Linked DNA regions of Homo sapiens: regions 1 and 3 are each linked to region 2. The links come from fine-mapping of genetic effects on gene expression. A gene starts in region 2. Each other region holds a variant in brackets. All regions are shown on one strand. Distances are between the middles of the regions. Region 1 has its middle 29 kb from the start of EMID1. Region 2 holds the start of EMID1 (EMI domain containing 1). Region 3 overlaps EMID1 (EMI domain containing 1).

The links. PIP is the estimated chance that this variant, and not a neighbour inherited with it, causes the effect.
Region 1: its variant is the best candidate, but not a certain one, in a credible set for the expression of EMID1 in tibial nerve (GTEx, PIP 0.58).
Region 3: its variant is the best candidate, but not a certain one, in a credible set for the expression of EMID1 in pancreas (GTEx, PIP 0.56).

What each region holds. Positions count from the first base shown.
Region 1 is chr22:29,175,917-29,178,692 of GRCh38, forward strand. No RefSeq gene overlaps it. Among named protein-coding and RNA genes, the nearest start is that of EMID1, 29 kb to the right of the region's middle. The variant T/C (reference allele first, on the strand shown) is at 1,261.
Region 2 is chr22:29,204,722-29,207,221 of GRCh38, forward strand. It overlaps EMID1 (EMI domain containing 1), which reads left to right and starts at 1,175. Exons shown (of 15, transcript NM_133455.4): 1 at 1,175-1,418. The coding sequence starts at 1,318. It overlaps LOC101929638 (a long non-coding RNA gene), which reads right to left and starts at 1,111. Exons shown (of 5, transcript XR_938134.3): 1 at 750-1,111; 2 at 439-600. RefSeq lists silencers at 1,270-1,359, 1,370-1,529, 1,550-1,609.
Region 3 is chr22:29,231,456-29,233,955 of GRCh38, forward strand. It overlaps EMID1 (EMI domain containing 1), which reads left to right. Exons shown (of 15, transcript NM_133455.4): 7 at 138-227; 8 at 801-947; 9 at 1,924-2,013; 10 at 2,159-2,211. Among named protein-coding and RNA genes, the nearest start is that of EMID1, 27 kb to the left of the region's middle. RefSeq lists an enhancer at 2,190-2,500. The variant C/T (reference allele first, on the strand shown) is at 1,297.

The DNA.
Region 1 (2,776 bases), 29 kb before region 2:
TTGCATACTCTGAAGATTAAAGGTAGTTTCTGTTGCCTGCTTTTCTTTTTCTTATGTCTGGTCACACTTTCCTGCTTTTTTTTTTTCATGTCTCATAAATGGTTGTTAACCACTGGACATTTTAGAGAATATACTGTAGCACTCTAAACACTGAACTCTCACATTCTGGGGCTCTTTTTTGTTTGCTTATTTGTTTAGTGACTTAGCTGGACTATTTTAGCGAAGTCTATTTCTCCTAAGTATGCAGCTTCTGATTTTACTCCTCAGAGAAAGCAGCCTTGGGCATGACCGGGGTCACCCTAGGTGACAGTGGTTTTAGCAGGGGTCTCTTTGTCTCTTTTTATGATTTCTCTGTCAAGCTGTCTGGCTTTGTTGGAATCGTACCCAGCTATTATCCTCCATTGATAACTAATTGCTCTATTGTTTTCAACAGTGCCCTGGGGTAGAAATTGCTCCACATGTGATTCAATTAAATTCAGGCCCTTTTGCAAAGGTACTCTTTGAGGCCAGTCTTTGAGGTTTGTTACAACTCCAGGAGCGTTCTTCTCAGTAGCTACTCTATAGTTTAGTTTGTTAATCTGACAAGCTACTAGCCTCCTCATAATTGCTTGCCACCAAAATTGCTTACCATCAAAATCTCCATTGCTTTTCCCCTTAAGCTGGAACTCCTCCACACTCAGTTCCAAAGGAAGTCAGTTCCCTTAAGATCCCTCTGTTCTTACAGCCTGCCACTTTCTGGGCAAAACCTCTGCACAACTGCTCTGGAGGTAGGGAGAATGGGCCCCCTTCTCAGAGAATAACACACGTGCTTTATGAACAGGCTGCTGGATGGGGCAGTAGCTTCTGATCTTCTTGGCTTGCTACTTATGTTATGGAACCTCTACCCTATGAATGAGCTGGGGCAAATGCAACCAGGCATTTTTTTGGCCTGCTGCACCTAAGGTAGAGCTTCCACCTTACAGAGTGGGGCTGGGTAGAGGAGGAGAACCCCAGAACTCTCAGCCACTCTTGCCTAGAATGGAGTATCTACAACACAGGACGTGGTGGATGAGAAATGCTGATGTCCTGCCCTTCCTAGGGAGATACTCTAGCTCCCCAGCTGAGACTGAGGAGAGGGAGACCTGTGTTCTTGGCTGCATCCACCTGGAGTAGAACATCCATCTCGCTGAGCTGGGGGGACGGGGAAGGGAGAGAATGGGCCATGGCTCAAATGCCACAGGCTCTCACTGTTCTACTGTTCTGAGATTAAATAGATTCTTT[T/C]TTCTTCTTCTTTTTTTTTTTTTTTTTTTTTTTTGAGACAGTCTTGCTCTGTTGCCCAGGCTGGAGTGCAGTGGGGTGATCTCGGCTCACTGCCACCTCTGCCTCCTGGGTTCAAGCGATTCTTCTGCCTCAGCCTCCCGAGTAGTTGGGACTACAAGCGCGTGCCACTATGCCCGGCTAATTTTTTTGTATTTTTAATAGAGACCGGGTTTCACCACATTCGCCAGGCTCGTCTCGAACTCCTGACCTCATGATCCGCCTGCCTCAGCCTCCCAAAGTGCTGGAATTACAGGCGTGAGCCACTGCGCCAGGCCGATTTTCTTTTTTTTCTTTCTTTCTTTTTTTTTTTTTTTTTTTGAGATGGAGTCTCACTCTGTTGCCCAGGCTGGAGTGCAATGGCACGATCTCTGCTCACTGCAAGCTCCACCTCCCGGGTTCACACCGTTCTCCTGCCTCAGCCTCCCGAGTAGCTGGGACTACAGGCACCCACTACCACGCCTGGCTAATTTTTTTGTATTTTTAGTAGAGACGGGGTTTCACCATGTTCGCCAGGATGGTCTCAATCTCCTGACCTCATGATCCGCCTGCCTGAGCCTCCCAAAGTGCTGGGATTACAGGTGTGAGCCACTGCGCCCGGCCCCAGCCGATTTTCTTGAATAAATGTTTCATTTGCTGTGTGACCTCAGGACAATTTCCAGAGACTTTAAATGGTTGTTTTTTCATATAATATTTACCAGTTATAGTTATTTCTCTGGGCAGAGGGTAGGTGGAGCTCCTCACACCACTATACCAGAAGTTGTCTCTGAATATGTAATAGTCATTTGCTACATAATGACATTTCCGTCAATGATGGACCACATATACAATAGTGATCCCATAAGATTATAATTCTGGGGCAGGTGCAGTGGCTTATGCCTGTAATCCCAGCACTTTGGGAGGCCAGGGCAGGTGGGTAGCTTGAGCCCAGGAGTTCAAGACCAGCCTGGGCAACATGGCAAAACCCCATCTCTACAAAAAAATTTTTTAAAATTAGCCAGGCATAGTGGCTTGTGCTTGTGGTCCCAGCTACATGGGAGGCTGAGATGAGAGGATGGCTTGAGCCCAGGAGGCGGAGGTTGCAGTGAGCTGAGATCGTGCCACTGCACTCCAGCCTGGGCAACAGAGTAAGATCCTGTCTCAAAAAAAAAAAAATTATAATACTGTATTTTTACTGTACCTTTTCTACGTTTTGATGCACAAATACCACTGTGATACAGTTACCTATGGTATTCAGTACAGTCACATGCTGTACAGATTTGTAGCCTAGGGGAAATAGGCTACACCACATAGCCTAGGTGTGTAGTAGGCTATCTCAGCTAGGTTCGCGTGAGTGCACTCTGTCATGTTCACACAATGATGAAATCAAATCAAATCACATTTCTCAGAACATATCCCCATCGTTAAGTGACTCATGACTATTTATTAATAAATAATACAGTAGTCCCCCTTTATCTGGAGTTTCACTTCTTACGGTTTT
Region 2 (2,500 bases):
CCAGGAGGGGCAATCCAGTGACTGGCAGATCCTTTCTGGGGAGTGTTTCTAGAAGGGACCGTGGGTCTGGACAAGCCATAACAGGAAGTAGCCAAGCTGGGCAAGGGCTTCCCCAGCCCAGGCCTAACTACTGCCCATCGATCCAGGCAGAAGGCGGGGTTAGAGACTGCCCTGGGAGATTGGGGGTCTGGGTCCCCTCTGATGAGAGCTCTGGTCTCTCCCTATAAACACACACTCCTATCACAGACACACACATAACACACATGCACATAAATCCACATCAAGCATGCACACACATCCATCATACACACATACGACACACACATGCACCCCTGCACACACACACTACGCTTACATATACCTTTGTGGGATGTAGAGCCATTCCTCCAGAAGCCCATCCATGTACCCCAGATGAAACCACCCAACACCAATTCTTACCTTGTTACATATGGTGAAATCAAGGCATAGACCGAAGTGCTGTGGTTAAGAGCTGTTACTCTCCGAAGTCAGGCGATCTGGGTACAAATCCTGGCTCTGCCAAACCCCTGCCACGGTGCTTTAGGTAAATGACAGCTCCTTTCTGTGGCTTAGTTTCTCCACCTGTAAAATGAGAATAAGAACAGACTCTGCACTTATGGGGTCAGCCCAGATCTCCTCCTAGGGAGACTGCGAGTGCCTGGGCCTCAGTTTTCTCTTCTGTAAAATGGGGATATTGTGCCCAGTTCGAGCAGAGTGGCTTGAAGAGTCACCTGAGATAGGATGTGAAGTGGCCGCGGTGAGGTGCCCAATACACGTGGCGCGCACTGCTCAGGAAGCTTTCCTTGGAGGGCTGGATCCCGCAAAGGTGTCGAAAAAGGATGAGTCCCGGATATCATTCGCTCAGGTGAGGTGGGTTCGGGTCCCGGCTGCGTCTGGGACCGTGGCCCGGGCCTCAGTTTCCCAGTCTACAGCCCGTGGGAGGACACCTCGGAGCTGGCACCCCGCCCCCAAAAGGGCCCCGCGGCGCAGGGCGTGGGGCTCAGGTGGACACCTGGCGGGCCTCCTGGCGGGGGCGCCCTGGCCGCCCGGGCCCCTCCGGGCTCCTTCCGGGTTGGCAGCGGCGGCGCAGGGGGCGGGGGGCAGCGCAGAGGGGCCGGGCGAGGCCGGGAGCGCGCGCCCCCGCCCCCGCCCGCCCGCCTCCTGCCCGCCCTCCGGCCGCGGAGCTGGAAACCGGGCTCCGCGCGTCCGGGGCGGCTGGCGGCGCGGGCAGGCAGGCGGGGAGGACAGGCTGGGGGCGGCGACCGCGAGGGGCCGCGCGCGGAGGGCGCCTGGTGCAGCATGGGCGGCCCGCGGGCTTGGGCGCTGCTCTGCCTCGGGCTCCTGCTCCCGGGAGGCGGCGCTGCGTGGAGCATCGGGGCAGCTCCGTTCTCCGGACGCAGGTAAGAGCTCCCGGCGCCTTTGCACCCCGCTGGCCGAGGGTCCCGGCGCGCACACGCCCCCACCTCCAGGAAGGGCTGGGATTGGAGGGCGATCCAGTCCCCAGCCCGGGTGAGGGCAGGGACACGGCCATCCCGCGGTCCGGCTGAGGCTCCCGCGAGTGCGGGGTCCCCTACTCCATGTGTCGGAGCTGGCTGCCTCCCCTACTCCCTCCCTTTCAACCCAGGAGCTCGAGAGGAGGGGGAAGGGGCGCAACGAGGGCGAAGCCCTGGCCCTTCTGTTCCCCTGTCCCTAGGGCCCCTCCCCCTGCACTTGGGAAAGGCCTATGACACCCCCTAGCCGACTCTTCTCGGACCCTCTCTCCCCTTTTCCCTGTTCCTGTTTTTTTGCTTTGTTTTGTTTTTTGTTTGTTTGTTTTGTACCCAGGCTATTTATCTCCCTCGGAGGAGGGACTGGGGTGGAGTCTCACAGCCCAGTGGGTCAGTGTCGGAGATACCCCAGGGACCTGGCATTTTGGACAGAGAAAAGAGGGAGCACAGTCTTCCTTCTGCTCTCCTAGCGGCGGGGAACCTCCTCCCTGCTGGCCTTTACGGAGGAGCTCCCAGAACCTGACATGGTGGGGCCCATTATTATATATAGTGTCCTCATCAATCCTTGAAGGACCGAATGAGGTAGGGAAAACTGTCCCCATTCAACGGTTAAGCAAACTGAGACCCTAGGGAATTGGCATCATCTTTTAGCCTCATGGGCTATTCACTGAAGAGCTAGGTTGCAAATCTGCCCTTCTATCCTTGATGACAGTGTTTGAACCTGTCCTGGCCTCTGTCCTGGCTGCAGCCCCAGCGAGGGTCCCCTCCTAAAGGCCAGCCGCCGTTGTCCAAGGCAGACAATGTGGAGTAGCCAGGCCTCTCCAGGCCTTTTCATCCCATTCAAAGGCCTGCGCGGCCCCCACCCCCTACGGCCTCAATTCTTTAATTCTTTTCAGAAATTCTCCTTTCCCAGTGGTCAGGGGCCAGCATGCCCCTGCTGGGCTAGCAAGAGCAGTTGACATGGGCAGGGCTGGAGGACGGAGGTGGTTGAAGCA
Region 3 (2,500 bases), 27 kb after region 2:
AGGGCTGCCAGGAGCCATAGAGAGTGTGAGGGTCCCGCTGCTTCCCCGAAATGGTAGATGCTGGTTGGGGGGCTGGGGCCAGGGTGGGGGTCAAGAGCAGATGTGGAGCTGCCAGTCTGATATGCTTTACCCCCCAGACCAAGTCGGTGCTTGGGGGCTTCCCGGGCCCACCGGCCCCAAGGGAGATGCCGGCAGTCGGGGCCCAATGGGGATGAGAGGCCCACCAGGTGAGTGCCCGCAATGCTGCCCCACAGCTCCTCTGGCCATCCCCTCCACCAGGTGGGCCCTTCCCTGCTCCTGACATGGCCAGGATGACCTGGGCCCTTTCATCTACTTGCCTCTTCACTCAGCACCCCACCACGGAGTGCCCTGCCCACGCCTGGGCTCCATGAAGTCCTCTCTTATGTTCACTGACCCACATTCCCTGGGCACCTACACTTATCAGGCTCTGAGCTGGGCACTGGGTGGGGTCAGACATGTCCCTGCCCTTCTGGAGCTTCCATGCTGCTGGGAGCAGGGCTGGGCAGAGGAGAAGCAGCAATGCTTGCCCCATGTGACCAGGGTTTCTATGAGGGGTTTTGGGGGTTTGGGAGCCCCAAGGAAGGAAGACTCAGCCTGGACGAGGTGGAGAACTAGGTGCTGTGCTCATCCCCCTGTTAGACTACCAGGCAGCCTAGGCCTGTGGACTCCGGGGCCCTCTCTCATGCCCACTGCTCCAGGCTGCCTTGTCCTGTCGCTCAAGGCCACCCTGGGCCTCCTTGCCTCCTGTATACCCACAAATCCGTGTGATTCCATTGCAGGTCCACAGGGCCCCCCAGGGAGCCCTGGCCGGGCTGGAGCTGTGGGCACCCCTGGAGAGAGGGGACCTCCTGGGCCACCAGGGCCTCCTGGCCCCCCTGGGCCCCCAGCCCCTGTTGGGCCACCCCATGCCCGGATCTCCCAGCATGGTGAGTCCCCCTGGGATCCCAGCAGGTGGAGGTGGGGGTGGAGTAGCCATCAGCACAGTGCCCGCTACCATCTGCCACGTGCCTTCTGTGTGCCAGCCCTGCTCACGATAGGCCACATGTGACCCAGTCCTCCAGCAGGCGCCGTTGTCCTCCTGTGGTTACAGGTGAGGAACACTGAGGACCAGAGAGGGAAGGTGGCTTGCCAGGGTCCCACAGCCTGGGCGTAGGGGAACGGCTTCAAACCCAGGCTGCCTCCAGAACCTGTGCTTAGAGCCACCGGGCATCAGGCCCTCCCAAGCCTTGGAACTGGCTGGAATCCAGTTCTCGGAACACTGGGACGCAAAAGACC[C/T]GGCGGCAGGAAGTGAGTCCTGAACTCCCAAGGCCACAGGCCCGGCCCCTCCTCCAGGCCCTGACGTGCGTCCTTGGCTTCTTCCCTTTGGCAGCCCAGCCTGACCTGCCCATGGGCTGCCAGGGGTCAGAGTGTGGAGCGCCAGGTTTCAGCCTCTTCTCCACTGTGTTTTTGGTGCACAACCCAGCACACCATTCATTCATTCTGCCATCCCAGCATTCATTCCATCTCACTATCCATACGATGGGGACAATGACAGTGCCAGCCTCCCAGAGCTGCGTAACATCCATGTACAGAAGCCTGGCACACAGTAGGTGGTGGATAAATGGTATCTTTTATTGTCATTCCCATTTGACAGGTGACAGTACAGGCTCTGAAAAGTAGAAAGTGTTGCTGGATGTCACCAGCTGGATTGCAGTGGGGTTAGAACCCACATCTCCCTGCCTCCTGGTCTTGCGGGACCAACACTCTCCACACTCCTCACCCTGGAGCAGGTGCCCAGGTGGTACCAGCCATGCTGCAGGCTGCCCCATAGGGCAGTCCAAGCTGTCTTGGCAGAGGTGGCAGGTGAAGACTAACCACCCCACTCTACCCAGCTCTACTCACTCATCATCTTTGCTCACCCAGGAGACCCATTGCTGTCCAACACCTTCACTGAGACCAACAACCACTGGCCCCAGGGACCCACTGGGCCTCCAGGCCCTCCAGGGCCCATGGGTAAGTTGAGTCCAGGCCAGGGGTAAAGGGTGAAGTTGGTAGATGGCAGAGGGAATAGGGTTTGTGGCTATCAGGAGGGAGCTGATGGGGCACTTCCTGAGATTGTACTTTGTTCCGGCCCTTAGGACATCCTGTCTTTTTCCAGGTCCCCCTGGGCCTCCTGGCCCCACAGGTGTCCCTGGGAGTCCTGGTCACATAGTGAGTAGTTCTCCTTGTACTCTCACCCATGTGTCTGTCCATCTTTCCATCTATGCATACATCCATACATCTGTCCATCATCCACCCTTGTATCCATCTATCCATCCATCCATTCATCCTTCCATTCATTCATTCAACAAGTATTTATTGAGCACTTAATATGCAAACTACCTTCCATAAATCTTATTCAATCCAAGTAATGAGAACCATGTGTGGTTATCACCTAAGACCAAGAAAAGTAGAGATTCTTGTGCCAGCACATGGCAATGAGCTGTGGTGGGACTGTCTG